3 linked regions of the Homo sapiens genome follow. The protein of the gene in region 1 interacts with the protein of each later gene in a pairwise test. Each region holds a gene or a part of one and is shown on either strand. Other genes may lie near its edges.

Region 1 (7,326 bases):
GAGTAAAGGACCCCCCCTTTTCTTCCATCCGCATCTGGAATTCCTTTGGCCGACCTCAATACCCCTCCTCTCCCTCACCCCCCCATAGTCAGGAGCTCAAGCTACCCAGGATCCCTGCGGCATTCTGGGGCCAGGGCACCCCCTTGTGGTCATCTCAGAAACTGCTTATCTTTAGACGCCCGAGGACGCCACTCACTCGGGTTACAGAGCAATAGCTTTCTGCTCATCGGGGGCAGGCAAGCAGCCGGAGCAGCCATGGACGAAAGTCCTCGGCTCTTTTTTGTTGGATGAGGGCAGAGGTATGTGTGGCGCAGGCAGCCCCTACGTGGTTCAGTTGGCATCTTTGAATTAGAAAAAGGTGCTCCCTTTCTCAAGGATGGATGGAGCCCCACACCAGGAGGGCATCCCGCTGTCAGACACTCCCATTCACAACCTAGGTGGCGGCTCTGTGGAGCAGCCTCTCATTCCCCTGGGCCGGCTTCTTGTATATCTGCCGCATATCTCTATTTCATCCAAGAACCCTCCCTTCTGCCTGAACACCCCCTCCACACCATGATCCCAGAAACAGGGAGCCCCCACCACTAAAGAAGAAAGGCTGGAGCCGGTAGGAGGGTTCTTAGGTTTATTGAGTGATCTCTGAGAAAAGGGCCGGCCCCAGGAGCAGGAGGGGGTGGGGAGGATCCAGAGAAGCAGAGGACCAGGAAGAGAGCACCCCACCGTGGGCTCCTGGACCAGAGCAACTGGGGGACTTACACTTGCCAGCACAGCACACTCCTCTGGTCTTGGGCAGAAATCCAGCCACTGCCCCATGCTGCCAGACCTGATCGCAGACAGCCACTGTTCCCATTCCTTGCCAGCAGCAGGACGGAGAGTGCTCTACCCCACCTCCCTAGTCATTCACAATATTCCAGGGGGGCCAGCCCTCCTGGATGACCTGGTTGTCAGCCTCACACCCTCCTTCTAGGAGTGAGAGCATGAGCTCACTTTGCAGTGGGCACTAAGCAAAGACTGGGGAGCTGTGCCAGTCGGAGTACACCAGAAATCCGGAGAAGGTGCTGTCTGTCTTGATGCTGGCATAGATGCCAATGTAGTCACCCACACCCACCTGCACCCACACTTGGTCCTCAGGCTCCAGCCTCACCATGGCCCCCCCCGAGAGCGAGGCTGGCTTGGGCCACCCCCCGAAAAACTGGAAGAAAGAGGCAATGGATTCGCCATTCTTCACCAGATCAAACTGCAGGCTGGCCCGGTAGACGGTGGCATGGACGGCGAAGTAGTAGACCCCAGGCACCTGGCAGGTGAACTTGCCGGTGACGGCGTCGTAATGTCCCTGCTCGTTCACCAGCACGCGGTCGAAGGGCAAGGGTGCGTCAGACGGCGGAGGCACCCGGCTCTCGGAGCGCTTGGCGCTGAAGGCGGATCGCGGAGGCACCGAGCACTCCCCGGCAGGCCCGGTGGGCCCCGCGGGTCCCGCCTCTCCTCGCGGCCCGGGGTCCCCTCGAGGTCCCGGCAGTCCTGCGGGGTAAGCGGGGCGGCAGGGTGAGAGTAGCGGCGGCTCAGCCCGCAGCGGGGCGGCGACTCTAAGGTCACCGTACCCCTCCCCGCCCCTGCCTGAGCTTCGGCCAGCGCCTCCTCCCGCACGGGTACCTCCTCCACCCCTTCCCGCAGGGCAGATCTGGGGGGCTGGCCAAGGGGGCTCCCGCCGCCTGGGCCCCTCCCCCGCTCAGGGCTGCAAAGCGCGGGGAGTGGCGCCCCCTGGCGGGAGACCCGAGTCCCGGACACCGGGAGCTGGAGCTGCGGCCGCGCCTGCTCGGACATCGCCACCGATAGCCGCGGCGGTGCCTTCTTACCCGGCCTCCCGCCCTCGCCTTTCTCTCCCGGAGCCCCGGGCGCGCCGTCGCGGCCGTCGCGGCCATCGCGGCCCGGCAAGCCCTGGCTGCCATGGTGGCCCGGCGTGCCTGGAAGGCCGGGGTGCCCCGGGCAGAGGCTGGGGATCTTGTTGTCGTCCAGTGGGGGCGAGCCGGCCGCCAGGCCCAGGAGCAGCAGGACGAGGAGTGGCCTCATAGCGCTGGCACCGGGAGCCCGGACGCCGGGGTCCTCTCGCAGTCTGTGGACCAGGCAGGACTGGAGTCGGGACCCAGAATCCTGGGACCTGCCTCTCTCCCCACCCCGGCGCGGCCCAGTCGGTCCCCACCCCACTGCCGTGCCCCTGAGGCTGAGCGCTCGCAGGGCCGAGCATCCGGAGAGCACAGGCAGGCGCGAGAGGGTGGGAGCGGCCAGCCCTCCCTCCCACCGCCGGCCCGCGCCAGCCTTTCCCACAGTCCCCTCCCCAGCCCCTTTCCCCTCCTCCGCCAGACTCACCCCCCCTCCCGGCTCCCCGATGGCCTCCTTCGGGGCGCTCGCTACTCCGGACCCTCCAGTTGGTGGTGCTCCAGCCCCCGCGCTTCTCCCCGGCCAGGCGCCCCCTGCCCTGCCGTCACCCCAGTCCTGGTTCGCTCCCTGCCGGCTCCGCTTTCCTCCTCCCAGACTCCAAGAGGAAACCAGTTGTTCAGGGGCCAAGAGCTCCCGGACCGGGAAATAGCTGGGAAATAACTCGTGGTGTCGCCCGGCGGCCGGCCAAAGTTTAGGGGGAGAAAGGAGGGGGAGAGAGACTTGAGCTGGGCACAGAGAGGCAGAACTTCGAGAGACGGACACACAGGGCACCTCCTGTTCCCAGGGCCAGAGGAGAGGCAGGGCAGTGGCAGAGACCAAGGACCAGACCCCATTTCAGGGAGAAATACGCAGAGAGATGAGGGTGGAGAGTTCTAGAGGCAGACAGCCAGTTGGATCCCTAGGGCCTAGGACAGGGGCCTGCCACATGAATAGATGCTCAGTACATTTTTGTTGAATCAAGGAAAAGGTCAGAAGGCAGGCGATGGAGAAGCTGAAAAAGCAGATGGAAAGGGGAAGAGGCCTGGATGGGAAGTGGTCTCGATTGTCCGGTGGCACAGTGTGGGGCCAGTCAGCAGCCTGGGACCGGTAAAGGGACAGGAAGGAGCAGGGAGGGTGGTAGGGTCCCATGAGCCCCAGCTGAGGACTTCTCTTCCCCCTCCCTGGGAGCCCCAGAGAAGGATGGGTAGAGACCCTGCTGATGCTCCTTCCTTTGTTCCCCTGCGTGCCAGCCCTGACCGGCAAAAGAGGACGGGCAGGAAGAGGGCAGGGGCCGGCTTCAGGGTCAGGGCTGGGCACAAGCTTCCAGGTCAGCTGCCTCTGGCAGCCTGTTGCAGTTGAAGGGCCAGGGGGTGCCCAGTAGTGCCAGGCCAGACTGGCACTGGTGCTCCGCTTCCTGGCAGACAGAGCGGCAAGGGGGCAGAACACTGCCTAGTGGGGTGCAACGGGGCACAAGCAGCCCACACAGGAGCCTCCGGAAATGCTGGTAGCAGGGCAGGCTTGTCAGGCTCTGCGGAGGGAGAGTGGCCTTCAGGCACCTGCTCCCAGGCTCCTCCCCTCCCAGGCCCGCCCTCCTTCCCTCCACCCAGAAGACCTTGTAACCGCTGAGGACCTCTACCACCTCCTCCTGGGTGATCATGCCCACCCAGATGTTAGGGAAGGCTGTGGTGTTGTAGCTCAGACCGAGGCACATCTCCACCTGGACAGGCTCACAGGCCAGCTCTGCAGGGGTGGAGGGGAGGGCCACTGTGGGGACTGCTCACTGGCTCTGTGGCCTGTGGCAAGTCACCGAATCGCTCGGTCCTGTGTGTACATGGGTCCAATGGGGGTGGTTGTGAGGAAGCAAGAGGATAACAAAGAGACAGGCTGTACACACTCTGAGGATCCCTGCCATCCCTGAGAGCCTGCTCCAGCATCGCTTGCCAGCCCTGGGCATCATGCAGGCACGTCTTTAATCTCAGGGAACATGGGGCACCCGCGTTTGCAGGGACTGCTTGGGCATCTGGAAGAAACCCCCTGCTCTGTGTAAGAGGATGCCTTCATCTTTGGTGTGGGCTGTGGAAAGGGGCTCTGGGTGACAGAAGGGACTGGTTCTTGAAGCCCCACCAATGATTCCCAGATTCCCATTTCCCTTGGGGTGACACTCAGTACTATTGCCACCACCAGCCGACTGTCTTCCAGGACTCTGTGAAGTGGTCCCAGAGTCAGGATGGTGAGGCCAGCTGGCCCCGCCCCCTCAGGGAGGTTGGGATGGGACACTGTGCAGTACGGCAGTAGGGTTCTGTGAGGTGGGCACCCAGCCTGCTCAGGGTCCCCAGGGGCAGGCTTCTCACCTGGGGGTGGGAACAAGGGGCCGCTGCAGTTGTCATCGCTGCCATCGGTGCAGTCTCTCCACATGTCACACATCCACTGCACACCCTTACACCCTCCTGCCTGGCAGGAGAGCTCACTGGGCCCACAGGGGTCTGCAGGCACAAGGGGCATGGCAGTGCCCGGGGACATACCTACACCCCCAGTACCCCCAGAGTGTCCTGACCAGGGTCCAGAGCCCTTGTCTGTCCCCCTGGAGGTGCCTCTACTGCCCCCACCCACTTGCCCAGGGGCACCTACTCTCCGTGGCATTGAAGGCCAGGTAGGTGGCTGAGAAGCCTCCACTGCTGATGCCATGATCTGTCCTAAACAGCACAGCCAGCTCATGGTGCGAGGAGACGAGGTGGGGGGGTGGCTCTGCTCCACAGAACCTGCCCAAAGCAGACAGCTGTTCTGGGCACCAGCCCTGGCTGACTGAGGGGGCACTGCAGCCTCCCACAGGCCTGGCTCTGAGCTGGGAGCCCTGGATGATGCCAAAGGTGATGGAAGACACAGGGTTAGGGTCTGGCGAGAAAGACACATATATTCAACAGGGAAAGCATTAAACAAACTGTCTGAACTCGAGCCACTTCTAGATGGGGAAAAATCAGCGAAGCAGCCTGGCATTGTGGCTCACACCTGTAATCCCAGCATTTTGGGAGGCTGAGTAGGGAGGATCACTTGAGCCCAGGAGTTTGAAACCAGCCTGGGCGATATAGTGAGACCTTGTCTTTACAAAAAAATTAAAAAAGTAAATTATCTGGGCGTGGTGGCATGTGCCTGTGATCCCAGCTACTTAGGAGGCTGAGGTGGAAGGAGCACTTGAAGCTGGGAGGTTGAGGCAGCAGTGAGCCATGATGGTGCTACTGCACTCCCGCCTGGGCAACAAAGTGACACTCTGCCTCAAAAAAAGAAGAAAAAGAAAAATCAATGAGGGTTTGTAGGGGAGGTGGAAGTGGCCCCTGCCGGTGGGGAGGAACTGGGGCAGGGAGAGGTTTGGGGAAGGACCTCCTGGGGACAGGGAGAGTGTGGGGTGAAGGTTTTGAGGTGAGAGCTGTCTTTAGGGTGATGGTGAAGAGACCCCCGGCCTGGAGTAGCAGAAGAAAATGAAGCTGGAGAATGGAATGTGCTGGGCCGACATGGAAGCCGGGGGTGGCAGACAGTGAGGATGGAGTTATCCATGGCTCTTCCCTGGCTCCTGTACCTGCCCAGGAGGCTGAAGGCCCCTGAGCTGCTGGTCTCATACACCTCCACGTAGTCAAACTTGCACTCGTCCTGAGCCTCCAGGCTGAAGTTGTGGAACTGTAGTTCTATGCTGTGTCCGGCAGGCACCGAGATATGCCAGGTGCAGAGCTGGGGGAGGGCATAGGTGGAGCAATTCATGGCCCCTTCTCCTGTCTCATCCCGGGCACCCAGAAGGGTCTTCTTCCCCCACTGCTGGCTGGGGGGATGGGGTGGTGCTTTCATCATTGGTGGTTCTTAAGGACCTTTAATTTACCTGGTTTCAGAGGTGAGTTGACCCAGTGTGGGAACATCTGGGTACACAGCAGGCACTTAATAATATTCCCCCATCCCCCGTCTGCTTGATCTCTGACCTTCCCAAGTAGAAGGTAGTGTCTACCATGCCATTCCCATTACACTAACTTGGGGATCAGGTGCTTCCGTGTGTGCCCCTCCCGTTCTGCATGGAGCACTGTGCTTACCAGTTGGTGAGGGTACTGCTGCAGGTAGCTGGGAGTAGAGAAAGTGCCCTGGAGGCCAGTCAGATTCCCCCCACACCCTGTAGAGAGGTGGAAGGGCTCATGAGTTTGCTAGGATCTGTGCCTCCATCCAATAGGGCTGGCGGTGATTACAGAGCGAGAGTTTTGGCCATGCCCATGGGAAACAAGTTCTGGGCCAAAGAATGACTGAGCAGGAAATGCTGACGGAGGGCCCGGTTTGAGGCTGGACCAGAGCTGGGGAGCCCAGCTTGAACCCAGATCAGACGCCTGAAGAGAGGACCCCCATGCCTGGCCCGTACCCGAGAACTTGGCACTGCAATTGGTCTCATCACTGCCGTCAGCACAGTTGGCAAAACCATCACACACTGAGTCAGGTAGCAGGCAGATGAGCTGGTCACAGCGGAACTCATCATGGGCACAGCTCCCTGGATGTGGGCACCAGGAGTCAGGGAGGCCCGGAGTCTCCACCCCTTTGACAGGACTGGGAGTGGGTGGAGGGGAAGAAAGTGGACACTCAACAGGCAGGTGGGAACACACTCACCGCGCCCAGGGGCCATAGCCTGGTACCAGGCATGGAAACCAAATCCTTCCACACTGCTGTCAGAGACGAAGACCACCAGGAGGTGGCTGGCATTGGTGTTGAGCGTGGGGGGAGGCACCCTTCCACAAACCCTGCAAGAAGCCAGGTTGGGGGTGAGGGAGGCTCCAAGAGCAGGGTCAGCCAGAGAGGAGCTTGCCTGGGCCTTGCAGTCCTATTTTCTCAACCCCCAAACTGGTGACCATGTGGTCAAAAAGGCTCCTCTGATGTCCCAGGGAGCTCTGACCTTCCTAGCACCTGCACATTTATCCTTGTAGCATCTACTCATGGGGAGATAGGCAGGAGATCCATGTTACAGACTAGGAAACAGGTGAGAGAGGGGAAGTGATCTTCCTCACGGCACACAGCAAGGTGGTGGCAGAGCTGGGCCCAGAGGTCTAGTCTCTCAATTTCTTCCTCGGTTAGCCCTTCTCCCTGCCACTCCCTGATTCTGCTCTTTAGATAGTGGTTCAGGACACGGTGGGATGTCCTGGGGACAGAGGGACCTACCTGAGGAGGGGGCCTTCAGGCTCAGGGGAGAGTTCCAAGCGATCAAAAAGGCAAGAGGCCACACTCTCTATGCTGAGGGCTTCGATCTTGAGCTGTATTGCATGGTCTGTGGCCACCTGGATATGCCACACGCAGTGGGTGTTGGGGGGGTAAGGGTCTGGGTAGTTAGGGCTGCTGAAGAAGCCCCTTGGGCCAGAGAGGAGGCCTCCACAGGCTGCAGAGATGGAGGTTAGAGTTCAG
Region 2 (7,887 bases), on another chromosome or scaffold:
AACTGCTCCATGCTGATGACAATGGGTCAAGACAGTATTATGCAAAGTGTGATTGTGTGCCATGGGTGTAGATGAGGCAGGTTGGGTGTTACAAAGTCACTCTTCATTTTAATATTTGCAGAGTTAAATTGATGTATATTATAAAATAACTAGCCATTAAATTCCTGATTTCTCATATATTCATTCACTCATACAATGAATATTATTAAGCACCTGCCACAATCCAGGCACTGTTCTAGGAACCAGGGATTCAACAGTGAACAAGACAAAAATCCCTGCCCACATGGAGCTCACATTCCAGCAGGGGGAGACAGGCGATAAACGTAATGGTGAAATGTTATTTAAATCTGGTATTGGAAGACGACAGGTGCTTGCGGGGAAAGGTGGGACTAGGAAATGCAGAGGTGGGAACCAGTCCCAGTTTTAAACAGAGTTTAAACCAGAAGATCACGGCAGGGGTTAGTGAGGAGACTTCTAAGCAGAGACTTGCAGCAGAGGAAGGTGTAAGCCGAGCAGAATTCTGGGGGCAGAGAGGGTCCCAGGCAGCACAAAACCCCTAAGGCGGGGGTGTGTGTGGAATAAGGGAGGAGGCCAGACTGCCTAGAAACAAGGGGTTGATTTACTTTCAGTGGAAAGACAAGGGTCAGGTTTGGTACAGTACAGGTGGTGCTCGCATGGGACACACATTAAGACATGGTTGGCTCAGCGTGGTGGCTCACGCCTGTAATCCCAGCACTATGGGAGGCCGAGGTGGGCGGATCACCTGAGGTCAAGAGTTTGAGACCGGCCTGGCCAACATAGTGAAACCCCATCTCTACTAAAAATACAAAAATTAGCCAGGCATGGTTGTGGGTGCCTGTAATCCCAGCTACTTGAGAGGCTGAGTGAGGCAGAAGAATCGCTTGAGCCCAGGAGGTGGAGGTTGCAGTGAGCCGAGATCACGCCACTGCACTCCAGTCTGGGCGACAGAGCGAGACTCCATCTCAAAAAAAAAAAAAAAAAAAAAAAAAGACATGATTAGGCAAATACAGGGTCGATGTGCCCCAGGGTTGCCCTCCCCCACCCCCACCGGCGTCATATGTGTGACTGTAAGGGTCCTTCTGCAGACATGTCTTAACCCAAAGGGTTTTCTTAGCAGGTGAGAAGATGAGATATGTCGCTGTTTGGGGGTAAGGTGTGAGGCTCAACCATCCATTTGTCCTTCCCCTCCTGTTCAGGAGTTATTCCTTCTTCGGGAGCATTTTGAGTGTTGAATGTGATGATGCCATCCCTCCCAGTCTCTGTACACAGGCTCTGGACTCTGCTCACCTGCTCCCGCTTCGGGAAAGCCCTTGGGCTCCCTCATACTACACCTGAGGTTGACACTCAAAGCCCGTAATCTACTTTGGTCCCTTATCCTTAAATATTAGTGAGTTTTAAATAGCCACTGAGCCCCAGCTTTCCCAAGAAGCCCCACCCATGATGGTGCCTGGACCTTCTGGGCAGCGAGGGAAGGAACCTCTCCCGGGTCTGCAGAGGACACGCGGCAGCGCCTCATTGCATCCTCACTTTTCAAGTGAGGGGCCACAGGGTGGGGAGCCACGTTTGCAGATTTGGGCTCTTCCACAACTATGTCTTGACCAAATAGTTCCAAATGAATGGAAGATTTACTATGAAAACCAACAAACATCTTAACTAATGCTCCCAACATCCACGGCATCATGAATATACTGGGACTGAGAGGGGAAATGATGGGCTCAAGGTCACCCAGCGGATGAAAGCTAGGGACCCAAACCCACAGTCCCAAACTCACCTTTCAGTGACCCCTCTAGCTTATCAATTAGGAAGTCCTTACCTAATGCGTCCAGGTGGCTACTGAGGAGACACAATTTGACCACGGTGTGGACCTTCAGGCTCACTTGAGAAAAGGTGATATGAGGTCACTGGGTATTTTGAAGTTGGGAGCATTCTGGGTTCTCCAGGGACCAGGCAACCCTGTCTGTCTCCAGTCCTCATGTCCGCAGAATATTATAAGTGGCCTGCCCATGCCAGACAGTGAGGCTAGAGAATCATCATCTTGCTCCCTGCTCTCTGCCCCTCTGCCCACATCCTTGGGAGCTTCAAAGGGTGTTTGCAAAAGCACCACGTATAGGACCAGCACATCGCAGGTGTTCAATGACCATCTTGGAAGTGTTTACACTCGTTTTGGAGTAAACCAAGATATGCCTGTGGCAGAGGTGGAGGAAGCCATTGGATTCAGCCTCGGATTACACTAATGTGTGGGCCTCTCTGTCTTGCCCTAGAAAGTGAGGGCAGGGACAATGTCTGATACATTTCTAACCCCCCAGTGCCTGATTCACAGTTGGTGCTCATTAAAGCACAAACATTAGATCCGTTGAAACCCTAGTGTCAAAAACCCACCTATCAAATAAACAAATGACTGTATAAATGAAGTTGCTCCCCAGCGGACACTTCTATGCTCCTCTCTGCTCTTCCTCACCCCCAGCTGGTCAGGCTTCCAGAGGGGTCCCTCCAGCACTTCCCCTCCCTGCCACTGGGCCCCTGCTCACCTTGTTGAAGTCAAAAGTCTCAAACATCTGTTCCACGTACTGGCTGGCCGACGGGCTCAGGTTCTTGAGGCCGAAGAACTGGCGGAACTCATAGAGGGTGAGTTGGCCAGAGGGGCACTCAGTCATGAACTTCTTGTACCACTGGTGGCACTCGGTGCTGCTCAGCTCCTCCACTGACTTTCCCTCCATCACGTTGCCCATTGCTCAGGCCTTCAGGGGGCTGACGTCTGAGATGGACAGGCCCTGTTCGCTGCTCCTCGCCCAAAGGTGTCTTGGCCGACAACGGGGCCGTCCTCTCTCACAGGCCTGAGTCCTTCAGGCCTGAGCAAAGAAGGGCCTGATGGATCAGATGGTACCGGGAAATGTGGAGAGGGAGAGAGCAGAAGGAAGAAGATGATGGCCCACACTCAAACTCACAGATGCCAGAGAACTGGTGTTAAGAGTCTCCACTAAATCCTTGCAGCCCCAGGGGAGACTGTACCCTGGAGAAAAGAGTTGAAAATAGAACAAGGCTTAGAGAAGCAGAGTCCTTAGGATTACAGCCTTGAGCTGTAGGTGAGAGGATTTTTTAACCCAGTTTGCAATCTTCTAATCCCTTCTTACCACCACGGAGTGGGTGTCAGCTAGAAGCTGCTCTGATCCTATGACCTTTGTGACCTTCTTCTCCTGGTTTGAGTGGATTCACAGTGGTTTTGGATTCTGCCTTCAATCATGGAATTGAGGTATATATGAGATAGAGCTGGCTTCTTGTCCAGAGATGGCCAACTGTGGGCTCTTGACAGGGCTGCTGTGTACAGTTATCCAGGCTGTGCACTGCACTTGGCCATCACAACTGAGGGGGTCCAATCATACCATGAGTGTGCTAACATTTGAGGGCACCTGGGTGGATGCAGAGTCTGTGGGCTTCCAAGATAAGCCTTGAACAGCCAGAGAGAACCCCCTCCTACATTAGCCTGCACCAGTACACAGAGACGTGCACACACATACACACACTCGTACACACTCATCCTGTTCTGGCCACACTCTCATGTTCCTGAAGGTTGCATCTCTCCCTTCTTGAGAGCCCTGAATTCATCCTTCCATCTAATTCTGAGCCTCACATCATCACCATCACCTACTAGGGGCACAGGGCAGGGGACATGGAGTGTGCGCCTGGTGCCCTGGGGTATGTGTGAGTGTGAGAGTGCAGGCACACAGGTGCATGGGTGAGCTGCTACCTGCTGGTCCTGGAAAGCTCCCAGGCCAAGCCTGGGGGCCTGTCTATGCAGCAACAGCTTTCTCTGATGCCTGGTGGGATGCGTACTCCCTAGCCACACACTTAAAAGCTGGCTCATTTATGGAACCAGCATTTGGGTGCAGGTGCACTTAACCTGGATGCTGCCAGGAAAGCTTAAAGCCAGCGCTTGCCCTGCCCTGTCTTTTTCTCTTGTTTGCCTTCCTCCTTTACATATGGGGCACACCCAGGTCTCCTAACTCATCTAGAGGGAACCACTGCCCATATTTCTGCTTTCCCCACCAGGGCCTTGGACACTTGGTCAAGTTGTGCACTGATACACAATTTATATGATTTATATAAATAATATATAATTACATGTAAATAGATTTATATAAATATACAATTTATACAACATATAACATATATCAAATACATGTGCATACATATTTCAGAATGGGCTAGGTTATGCTACAGTAACAAACCACTCTAAAATCTCAGTGGCTGAAAACAATACAAGCTTGTTTCTTGCTTACATTACTGGCTGGGTGACCTTGAGCAAGTAACTTAACCTCTCTGGGCCCCAGTTTCCTCATTCTTAAAATAGGAATAATGGCGCCCATCTGATAGGGCTGTTAAGGGGAGTAAGTGGGGCTGGGCACGGTGGCTCACACCTGTAATCCCAACATTTTGGGAGGCCGAGGCGGGTGGATCACTTGAGGCCAGGAGTACGAGACCAGCCTGGCCAACATGGTGAAACCTCATCTCTATTAAAAATACATAAATTAGCCAGGCGTGATGGTGCACACTCCTGTAATCCCAGCTACTCGGGAGGCTGAGGCAGGAGAATCGCTTGAACCCAGGAGGCGGAGGTTGCAGTGAGCCAAGATCGCACCACTGCACTCCAGCCTGAATGACAAAGCGAGACCCTATCTCAAAAAAAAAAAAAAAAAAGAGTATGTGAGTTAATATAAGAAAAGCATTTAGAACAAGGTCTGCCCCAGAGTAAGTGCCCCATAAATCTTGGCTATGATGTTATGATTTTGTATCTATTACAGCAGCATGTCTGATGTGCTGTTCACTACAATCTAGGTGCACTTATACTGCATCTTGGACACAGCAGCATCCCTGGGTTAGAGCCAATCGTGCTCTTGTCCCTTTAGCCCCATTCACTCTGGGCCCTGGACGGCCAGAAGGGCTATGTGTAGGAACAGACATCCAACCTGCCTCACACAGGCCACCTACCAGCTGTAGTCAGGCCCTAGGGAAGGTGGAGGCCTTTGTTAAAGCCTTACCAGATCCAGGCTCACGCCTGTAATCCCGGCACTTTGGGAGGCTGAGGCGGGTGGATCACAAGGTCAGGAGTTCGAGACCAGCCTGGCCAACATGGTAAAACCCCATCTGTACTAAAAATACAAAAATTAGCCAGGCATGGTGGTGGGCGCCTGTAATTCCAGCTACTTGGGAGGCCGAGGCAGGAGAATCACTTCAACCTGGGAGGCGGAGTTTGCAGTGAGCCGAGACTACGCCATTGCACTCCAGCCTGGGCGACAGAGAGAGACTCCATCTCAAAAAAAAAAAAAAAAATTGTTCATAATGAACATATGTTGCTCACAAAATCAAAGAGGATAGTTATTTTTGAAAAAGAGACAAACTGGGACTGTTTTACCTCTACTCCACATGAATTGATTGACGGAAGGTATATGGGGGTGGGGAGCTGGGTTCTCCCTGCTTCAGTCAGCTTCTCCACAACAAGTTAAGGGACGGGGAGAGAAGGACTCCTTCTGTGAACTTGCTTGGGGCCCAGCTGGAAAATGTGTCCTTGCCGAGGACTCTCAGGCCCAAGATTGGGAAATGAAGAGGTTGGGGACAAGGCAGCCGCTCATCTTTCCCTTTCTATTTAAATCCCTCTCACTCTTCATGTGTGAGTACAAATGCCACCTCCTCTGTGAAGCCTTCCCAAATCTCTCTCAAATATCTTCCTCCCACAGCATACTGACATTTTGCTTATGTGTTGTGACAGTTAATTTTAGGACTGGATGAAGGGATTACCCAACAAGCTGGTAAAGCTTTATTTCTGGGTGTTTCTGTGAGGGTGCTTGCCAAAGAGACTGGCATTTGAATTCATGGACTAAGTAAGGAGAATCTGCCTTCAGCCTATGTGGGTGGGCACCATCCAATTGGCTTAGGCCTGGACAGAAGAAAAAGGCAGGGGAAAGGTGAATTCTCTCCCTCTCTCTCTCTCTCTCTGTCCTGGAGCTGGGACACTCTTCTTCTCCTGCCCTTGGACTCCAGGACTTGCACCAGTAGCAACCCCTCCCCACTCTCACGTTCTCAGTCCTTCAGCTTCAGACCCAGAGTTACACCATCAGTTTCCTTGGCTCTGAACCCTTTGGGCTTGAACTGAGCCATGCTACTGGCTTCCCTGGTTCTCCATCTTGCAGATGGCATATTGTGGGACTTCTCAGCCTCCATAAACATGTGAGCCAATCCCCCTAATAAATCTTCTCTCATACCTCTATATATAATCCTATTAGCTCTGTCTCTCTGAAGAACTCTGGCTAATGTGTGTGTTATATTAGTTTTCTATGTTGCATAACAAATAACCACAAAGTCAGCAGTTTTAAAACTACACACATTTATTATTATTATTATTATTATTATTATTATTATTATTATTATTATTTTGAGATGGAGTTTCACTCTTGTTGCCCAGGCTAGAGTACAATGATGCGATCTCGGCTCAGCACAACCTCCTGCCTCCCAGGTTCAAGCAATTCTCCTGCCTCAGCCTCCTGAGTAGCTGGGATTACAGGCATGTGCCGCCATGCCCCACTAATTTTGTATTTTTAGTAGAGACAGGGTTTCTCCATGTTGGTCAGGGTGGTCTCAAACTCCCGACCTCAGGTGATCCACCTGCCTCAGCCTCCCAAAGTGCTGCGATTACAGGCATGAGCCACCGTGCCTGGCCACACATTTATTATCTCACAGTTTCTATGGGCCAGGAGTCCAGGCACAGCTTAGCTGGTCCTCTGCCTAGCGTCTCACAAGGCTGCTCTCAGGGTGTCACCTGGGCTGTATTTTCATCTGGAGGCTCAACTGGGGAAGAATCCACTTCCAACTTATTCAGGTTGTTGGCAGAACTCATTTTGTTGTGGCTATGTGACAAGGGAGCTGGCTTTTCACTTGACATTGCCTGGGGGACACACTCAGGTCATAGAGGCTGCCCTCTGTTCCTTGTTACACCAGCTTCCTCACCACGCTGCTTATTTCATCAAGTCAGCGAGAAGAGTCTCTCTGCAATCTGCTAAAGTCTATATAACCTAACATAATCCACAGAGAGACGTCCCATCACCTTTGCCATATTCTATGGGTTAGAATCAAGTCAAGGGCCTCACCCACACTCAAAGGGAGAGAATTTTACAAAGGTAGGAACAACAGGAGGTAGAAATCACTGGGGTCACCTTAGGGTCTATTATGACATTCACTCTTCTACAATAACACGGACATAGCATTCATTTCTTTCCAGAAGTATTATATAGGCAACTCTTCTTGCCAGCCTGCTCTAAGGAACCCAGCAAGCTCACAGAGGGTGGAGACCATTCTGTTATTTGTGTCTCGCCTGCCCCCAGCTCCTGGCACCACACATTCCACATTGTCGTGCGCTAGTTGTTCTGTTTGCCCAGCCCCGACTCATTCTCCCCCTTTCTCCTCCAGCTCTGAGCCCCAAAGACTGACCCTACAGACTGCATCACCCAGACTCTGCTGCCCTCTTGTTTCAGGCTGGGTTCATCTGCTGAGAAGCTGGAGGAAGACTGGAGGGTGGAGAGGGAGAAGAGCTGGGACATTTGTTGTCCTCACTCCTCCCTGCCAGCTCAGGGTTGGGGCAGCGGTTATTTCCTTCCACCTTCAATCACCGCTCCTGCCATAGCTCTCTGGGCTCCTGTAATCATGGCTCCCTCCCTTTGCCCCGCCAGGCATGATAAGGGCTTCCCTCTCGCTACTGTCTGGGTACATCACCATTCCCTTAACTATGCCCAGCTCTCTGTTAATAGTCCCCACATCAACTCTCCTAAATTACCGTTTTGAGAGTAATATTTGACTGACGGGCTTGAGCCCAGTAAA
Region 3 (7,000 bases), on another chromosome or scaffold:
GGGCAAGCGCTGGCTTTAAGCTTTCCTGGCAGCATCCAGGTTAAGTGCACCTGCACCCAAATGCTGGTTCCATAAATGAGCCAGCTTTTAAGTGTGTGGCTAGGGAGTACGCATCCCACCAGGCATCAGAGAAAGCTGTTGCTGCATAGACAGGCCCCCAGGCTTGGCCTGGGAGCTTTCCAGGACCAGCAGGTAGCAGCTCACCCATGCACCTGTGTGCCTGCACTCTCACACTCACACATACCCCAGGGCACCAGGCGCACACTCCATGTCCCCTGCCCTGTGCCCCTAGTAGGTGATGGTGATGATGTGAGGCTCAGAATTAGATGGAAGGATGAATTCAGGGCTCTCAAGAAGGGAGAGATGCAACCTTCAGGAACATGAGAGTGTGGCCAGAACAGGATGAGTGTGTACGAGTGTGTGTATGTGTGTGCACGTCTCTGTGTACTGGTGCAGGCTAATGTAGGAGGGGGTTCTCTCTGGCTGTTCAAGGCTTATCTTGGAAGCCCACAGACTCTGCATCCACCCAGGTGCCCTCAAATGTTAGCACACTCATGGTATGATTGGACCCCCTCAGTTGTGATGGCCAAGTGCAGTGCACAGCCTGGATAACTGTACACAGCAGCCCTGTCAAGAGCCCACAGTTGGCCATCTCTGGACAAGAAGCCAGCTCTATCTCATATATACCTCAATTCCATGATTGAAGGCAGAATCCAAAACCACTGTGAATCCACTCAAACCAGGAGAAGAAGGTCACAAAGGTCATAGGATCAGAGCAGCTTCTAGCTGACACCCACTCCGTGGTGGTAAGAAGGGATTAGAAGATTGCAAACTGGGTTAAAAAATCCTCTCACCTACAGCTCAAGGCTGTAATCCTAAGGACTCTGCTTCTCTAAGCCTTGTTCTATTTTCAACTCTTTTCTCCAGGGTACAGTCTCCCCTGGGGCTGCAAGGATTTAGTGGAGACTCTTAACACCAGTTCTCTGGCATCTGTGAGTTTGAGTGTGGGCCATCATCTTCTTCCTTCTGCTCTCTCCCTCTCCACATTTCCCGGTACCATCTGATCCATCAGGCCCTTCTTTGCTCAGGCCTGAAGGACTCAGGCCTGTGAGAGAGGACGGCCCCGTTGTCGGCCAAGACACCTTTGGGCGAGGAGCAGCGAACAGGGCCTGTCCATCTCAGACGTCAGCCCCCTGAAGGCCTGAGCAATGGGCAACGTGATGGAGGGAAAGTCAGTGGAGGAGCTGAGCAGCACCGAGTGCCACCAGTGGTACAAGAAGTTCATGACTGAGTGCCCCTCTGGCCAACTCACCCTCTATGAGTTCCGCCAGTTCTTCGGCCTCAAGAACCTGAGCCCGTCGGCCAGCCAGTACGTGGAACAGATGTTTGAGACTTTTGACTTCAACAAGGTGAGCAGGGGCCCAGTGGCAGGGAGGGGAAGTGCTGGAGGGACCCCTCTGGAAGCCTGACCAGCTGGGGGTGAGGAAGAGCAGAGAGGAGCATAGAAGTGTCCGCTGGGGAGCAACTTCATTTATACAGTCATTTGTTTATTTGATAGGTGGGTTTTTGACACTAGGGTTTCAACGGATCTAATGTTTGTGCTTTAATGAGCACCAACTGTGAATCAGGCACTGGGGGGTTAGAAATGTATCAGACATTGTCCCTGCCCTCACTTTCTAGGGCAAGACAGAGAGGCCCACACATTAGTGTAATCCGAGGCTGAATCCAATGGCTTCCTCCACCTCTGCCACAGGCATATCTTGGTTTACTCCAAAACGAGTGTAAACACTTCCAAGATGGTCATTGAACACCTGCGATGTGCTGGTCCTATACGTGGTGCTTTTGCAAACACCCTTTGAAGCTCCCAAGGATGTGGGCAGAGGGGCAGAGAGCAGGGAGCAAGATGATGATTCTCTAGCCTCACTGTCTGGCATGGGCAGGCCACTTATAATATTCTGCGGACATGAGGACTGGAGACAGACAGGGTTGCCTGGTCCCTGGAGAACCCAGAATGCTCCCAACTTCAAAATACCCAGTGACCTCATATCACCTTTTCTCAAGTGAGCCTGAAGGTCCACACCGTGGTCAAATTGTGTCTCCTCAGTAGCCACCTGGACGCATTAGGTAAGGACTTCCTAATTGATAAGCTAGAGGGGTCACTGAAAGGTGAGTTTGGGACTGTGGGTTTGGGTCCCTAGCTTTCATCCGCTGGGTGACCTTGAGCCCATCATTTCCCCTCTCAGTCCCAGTATATTCATGATGCCGTGGATGTTGGGAGCATTAGTTAAGATGTTTGTTGGTTTTCATAGTAAATCTTCCATTCATTTGGAACTATTTGGTCAAGACATAGTTGTGGAAGAGCCCAAATCTGCAAACGTGGCTCCCCACCCTGTGGCCCCTCACTTGAAAAGTGAGGATGCAATGAGGCGCTGCCGCGTGTCCTCTGCAGACCCGGGAGAGGTTCCTTCCCTCGCTGCCCAGAAGGTCCAGGCACCATCATGGGTGGGGCTTCTTGGGAAAGCTGGGGCTCAGTGGCTATTTAAAACTCACTAATATTTAAGGATAAGGGACCAAAGTAGATTACGGGCTTTGAGTGTCAACCTCAGGTGTAGTATGAGGGAGCCCAAGGGCTTTCCCGAAGCGGGAGCAGGTGAGCAGAGTCCAGAGCCTGTGTACAGAGACTGGGAGGGATGGCATCATCACATTCAACACTCAAAATGCTCCCGAAGAAGGAATAACTCCTGAACAGGAGGGGAAGGACAAATGGATGGTTGAGCCTCACACCTTACCCCCAAACAGCGACATATCTCATCTTCTCACCTGCTAAGAAAACCCTTTGGGTTAAGACATGTCTGCAGAAGGACCCTTACAGTCACACATATGACGCCGGTGGGGGTGGGGGAGGGCAACCCTGGGGCACATCGACCCTGTATTTGCCTAATCATGTCTTTTTTTTTTTTTTTTTTTTTTTTTGAGATGGAGTCTCGCTCTGTCGCCCAGACTGGAGTGCAGTGGCGTGATCTCGGCTCACTGCAACCTCCACCTCCTGGGCTCAAGCGATTCTTCTGCCTCACTCAGCCTCTCAAGTAGCTGGGATTACAGGCACCCACAACCATGCCTGGCTAATTTTTGTATTTTTAGTAGAGATGGGGTTTCACTATGTTGGCCAGGCCGGTCTCAAACTCTTGACCTCAGGTGATCCGCCCACCTCGGCCTCCCATAGTGCTGGGATTACAGGCGTGAGCCACCACGCTGAGCCAACCATGTCTTAATGTGTGTCCCATGCGAGCACCACCTGTACTGTACCAAACCTGACCCTTGTCTTTCCACTGAAAGTAAATCAACCCCTTGTTTCTAGGCAGTCTGGCCTCCTCCCTTATTCCACACACACCCCCGCCTTAGGGGTTTTGTGCTGCCTGGGACCCTCTCTGCCCCCAGAATTCTGCTCGGCTTACACCTTCCTCTGCTGCAAGTCTCTGCTTAGAAGTCTCCTCACTAACCCCTGCCGTGATCTTCTGGTTTAAACTCTGTTTAAAACTGGGACTGGTTCCCACCTCTGCATTTCCTAGTCCCACCTTTCCCCGCAAGCACCTGTCGTCTTCCAATACCAGATTTAAATAACATTTCACCATTACGTTTATCGCCTGTCTCCCCCTGCTGGAATGTGAGCTCCATGTGGGCAGGGATTTTTGTCTTGTTCACTGTTGAATCCCTGGTTCCTAGAACAGTGCCTGGATTGTGGCAGGTGCTTAATAATATTCATTGTATGAGTGAATGAATATATGAGAAATCAGGAATTTAATGGCTAGTTATTTTATAATATACATCAATTTAACTCTGCAAATATTAAAATGAAGAGTGACTTTGTAACACCCAACCTGCCTCATCTACACCCATGGCACACAATCACACTTTGCATAATACTGTCTTGACCCATTGTCATCAGCATGGAGCAGTTTAGCAGATTGGCTAGGAGATGGAACACAGGATTGGGAAGTTTTTGTTGTTGTTGTTGTTTTGTTTTTTGTTGTTGTTGTTGTTTTTTGAGATGGAGTTTTGCTCTTGTCACCCAGGCTGGAGTGCAATGGCACGATCTCGGCTCACTGCAACCTCCACCTCCTGGGTTCAAGTGATTCTTCTGCCTCAGCCTCCTGAGTAGCTGGGATTACAGGTGCCCACCACCACGCCTGGCTAATTTTTGTATTTTTAGTAGAGACAGGTTTTCACCACATTGGCCAGGCTGGTCTCGAACTCCTGACCTCAGGTGATCCACCTGCCTCGGCCTCCCAAAGTGCTGGGATTACAGGTGTGAGCCACTGCACCTGTCCAGAAGTTTTGATACAGAGAGGAGTTAAACAGGGACAGGCAAATGACAGCACACAGGCCTGTTTTTGTAAATGAAGTTTTATTAGAACTCACCACATCTATTTATTTACGTAGAGAATTGTCTATGGCTGCTTTCACGTAAAATGACAGAGGGTGTTTGGCTGCAAAGCTGCATATTTACTCTTTGGCTCTTTACAGAAAAAGTTTGCCATTTTCTAATAAAAACTAAAAAGTTTTTAGTGCAAGTGCCAGCCCTTGCACTAAAAAATGGTTGTATCTTTGGGTATTGCACCAGATGTGCAGGGCTGGGGAGTACAGAGTGTGACTGGGGAGTGAAACCTGGGGGACAGGCCATTTGCTTTGCTTACTTCAAATGTTTGTCTGGGCTTGGGTTTGTCTGACAATCACACAGGTGCACACAAATCAATGCAAATCTCCATCTGCATTTGAGTACTGATATAGGATGATTTAGGAGAGGCTTTGTCATTCACTAGCTGTTTGGCCTAATCTCTCTCAACTTTGGCTTTGTCATTCAAACTAGAGACAAAAATATTCACCTCTTGGGGGTGGCTTGAGATTAAATGAGTAAAATGAATAAAGCACTCAGCCTAGGAAGTCCATGGAGAGCACTAAGAAAAGTTAGTATTGCTATATATTTTCATTGAATCTAATGCATACCACAATCTTGAAAAGTGCACACTGTCATTCCATTTTATACCTGGGAATACGGAGACTCAAGGTCATGTGACTTATCCAAGGTGATTTAGATCTTTCTGGCACAAAAATCCACACCTTTTCCATTGCCCCTTTTTAGACATTAAAAAAAAAACCTGCAAAAGCAATCCAGCTCATTGTAGAAATTTCCAGCAATACAGAAAGATAAAAAATGAAGAGCAAAAGTATCCTCACCTGGTGTCCCCTCCCCCAGAGGAAACCTCTTTAGCAGTTTTCTTGCTTATTCAAGCTGTGCTGTCTAGGGGCCTCTCTGGGCTCTGTGCTGATGACAGTCCTGGGAGGTGGGTTGGGACTGAATGAGCCCACTGTGGGGTTCAGAGTGTTTAAGGCCTTCCGGGGGCCTCAGCCCCTCAGGCAGCAGGGTGAGAAACTCCCAAAAGCTCACCCAAACCACGCTCCCATCCCTGGGGGTGCAGTTCTTCCTCCTCCCACCTACGCACATGTCTCCCATTTCCCCTAACTGGAAAGGCTCATGCTTGACAATCACAGGGAAGCAGGCAGCGCTCGCTAAAACCCAGATGCCTGTGAACAGACAGCGCCAGCCATTCACACCCCAGTGGATGCTGGCTTATTAGATTTGATTGGCAGCCTCTGGAGTAGGCAGGGTGGGCTATACAGGGCGTCTAGGAAGACAGATAGGTCACGGCGGAGACAGGGCTGGCCCCCTCGCTGCATCTCCGAGGGTCCGGGTCTCCCCTCAGCGTCTCTTGGGGCTTGCCGAGATGGGCGGAGCCTTGGGTTATGATGGGCGGGGCCTGAGGCTGGAGTGAGCGGGGCCCGGATGGGCTCACGGCGGCCGCGCCCCTCGCCCAGGACGGCTACATTGATTTCATGGAGTACGTGGCAGCGCTCAGCTTGGTCCTCAAGGGGAAGGTGGAACAGAAGCTCCGCTGGTACTTCAAGCTCTATGATGTAGATGGCAACGGCTGCATTGACCGCGATGAGCTGCTCACCATCATCCAGGTGCAGAGGGCCCGGCCAGGGCTGGGGGCAGCGGTCTGGGGTGGGACCCGGAACTGAGAGCCCAGGGTTAGAACAACAATCTCAGGATTGAGACAGGATGTGGGACTGAGGATCCTGGTGGCAGCTGTAGGCCTCACCAGCTGCGTGACCCAGGCCACGTTCCTTCCCTTCCTTGGCCTCAGTTTCCTCATCAATACCAAAAGACGATAGAAGTTTGACTCTTGAGTCCCAGCTCTGCCTAGGCCCCCGGGTACCCTGCACTCTACTCCTCACTGCTCTTGGGAGCCGGACAAGCTCTGACCGTCCCCAATCCTACCCCTGAGATAGGATAAGGATGGGCCCCTCTCACTTCTGCCCCTTCTTCCCTCCCAGGCCATTCGCGCCATTAACCCCTGCAGCGATACCACCATGACTGCAGAGGAGTTCACCGATACAGTGTTCTCCAAGATTGACGTCAACGGGGATGGTGAGGGGGCCGAGGAGGGGCTCCCCAGCGGAGGGGTCACCATGGATGTGGGGTCACCAGGGGTGGAAGGTCACTAAAGGAGAGGGTGAGGAAGGGAGGAGAGGCCCAAAGGCCCCCGTGCTGGTCACTTCCTCCACCTGCCTCTGCCCCAGCCACAAAGTTGGCTTTTAGGGGCCCCTGGACCAGAATCTGGGCTCTGGGTTCCTCTGCTTGCTGCACCCGCAGCAGGGGCTCTGACTTCTCCTCACGTGGGCTCTGTCCCTGCCCCTGGCAAGAACCCGGTTCTGTGCTCTGGACTGCAGAAATGAACACCCTCCTCCCCCTGATTCCCTTTCTCTCTACCCCAGGGGAACTCTCCCTGGAAGAGTTTATAGAGGGCGTCCAGAAGGACCAGATGCTCCTGGACACACTGACACGAAGCCTGGACCTTACCCGCATCGTGCGCAGGCTCCAGAATGGCGAGCAAGACGAGGAGGGGGCTGACGAGGCCGCTGAGGCAGCCGGCTGAGT

The links. The genes of interacting proteins can lie anywhere in the genome.
Region 2: the proteins of C1QTNF5 (region 1) and GUCA1A interact in binary tests that used the Homo sapiens proteins (3 or more experiments, as listed by UniProt).
Region 3: the proteins of C1QTNF5 (region 1) and GUCA1ANB-GUCA1A interact in binary tests that used the Homo sapiens proteins (3 or more experiments, as listed by UniProt).

The regions. Positions count from the first base shown.
Region 1 is NC_000011.10:119,338,334-119,345,659, forward strand, and holds C1QTNF5 (complement C1q tumor necrosis factor-related protein 5 precursor), read right to left. Parts: upstream 2,551-7,326; 5' UTR 2,362-2,550; intron 2,108-2,361; 5' UTR 2,065-2,107; coding exon 1,851-2,064; intron 1,516-1,850; coding exon 998-1,515; 3' UTR 609-997; downstream 1-608. Other genes in the region: MFRP (membrane frizzled-related protein), read right to left, coding at 3,215-3,439, 3,524-3,651, 4,263-4,394, 4,540-4,670, 5,483-5,631, 5,982-6,058, 6,299-6,424, 6,541-6,671 and 1 more.
Region 2 is NC_000006.12:42,168,477-42,176,363, reverse strand, and holds the start of GUCA1A (guanylyl cyclase-activating protein 1), read right to left. Parts: upstream 3,001-7,887; 5' UTR 2,751-3,000; coding exon 2,550-2,750; intron 1-2,549. Other genes in the region: GUCA1ANB-GUCA1A (guanylyl cyclase-activating protein 1), read right to left, coding at 2,550-2,750. UniProt on the Homo sapiens protein: Stimulates retinal guanylyl cyclase when free calcium ions concentration is low and inhibits guanylyl cyclase when free calcium ions concentration is elevated.
Region 3 is NC_000006.12:42,172,406-42,179,405, forward strand, and holds part of GUCA1ANB-GUCA1A (guanylyl cyclase-activating protein 1), read left to right. Parts: intron 1-927; 5' UTR 928-1,208; coding exon 1,209-1,409; intron 1,410-5,874; coding exon 5,875-6,024; intron 6,025-6,396; coding exon 6,397-6,490; intron 6,491-6,837; coding exon 6,838-6,998; 3' UTR 6,999-7,000. Other genes in the region: GUCA1A (guanylyl cyclase-activating protein 1), read left to right, coding at 1,209-1,409, 5,875-6,024, 6,397-6,490, 6,838-6,998. UniProt on the Homo sapiens protein: Stimulates retinal guanylyl cyclase when free calcium ions concentration is low and inhibits guanylyl cyclase when free calcium ions concentration is elevated.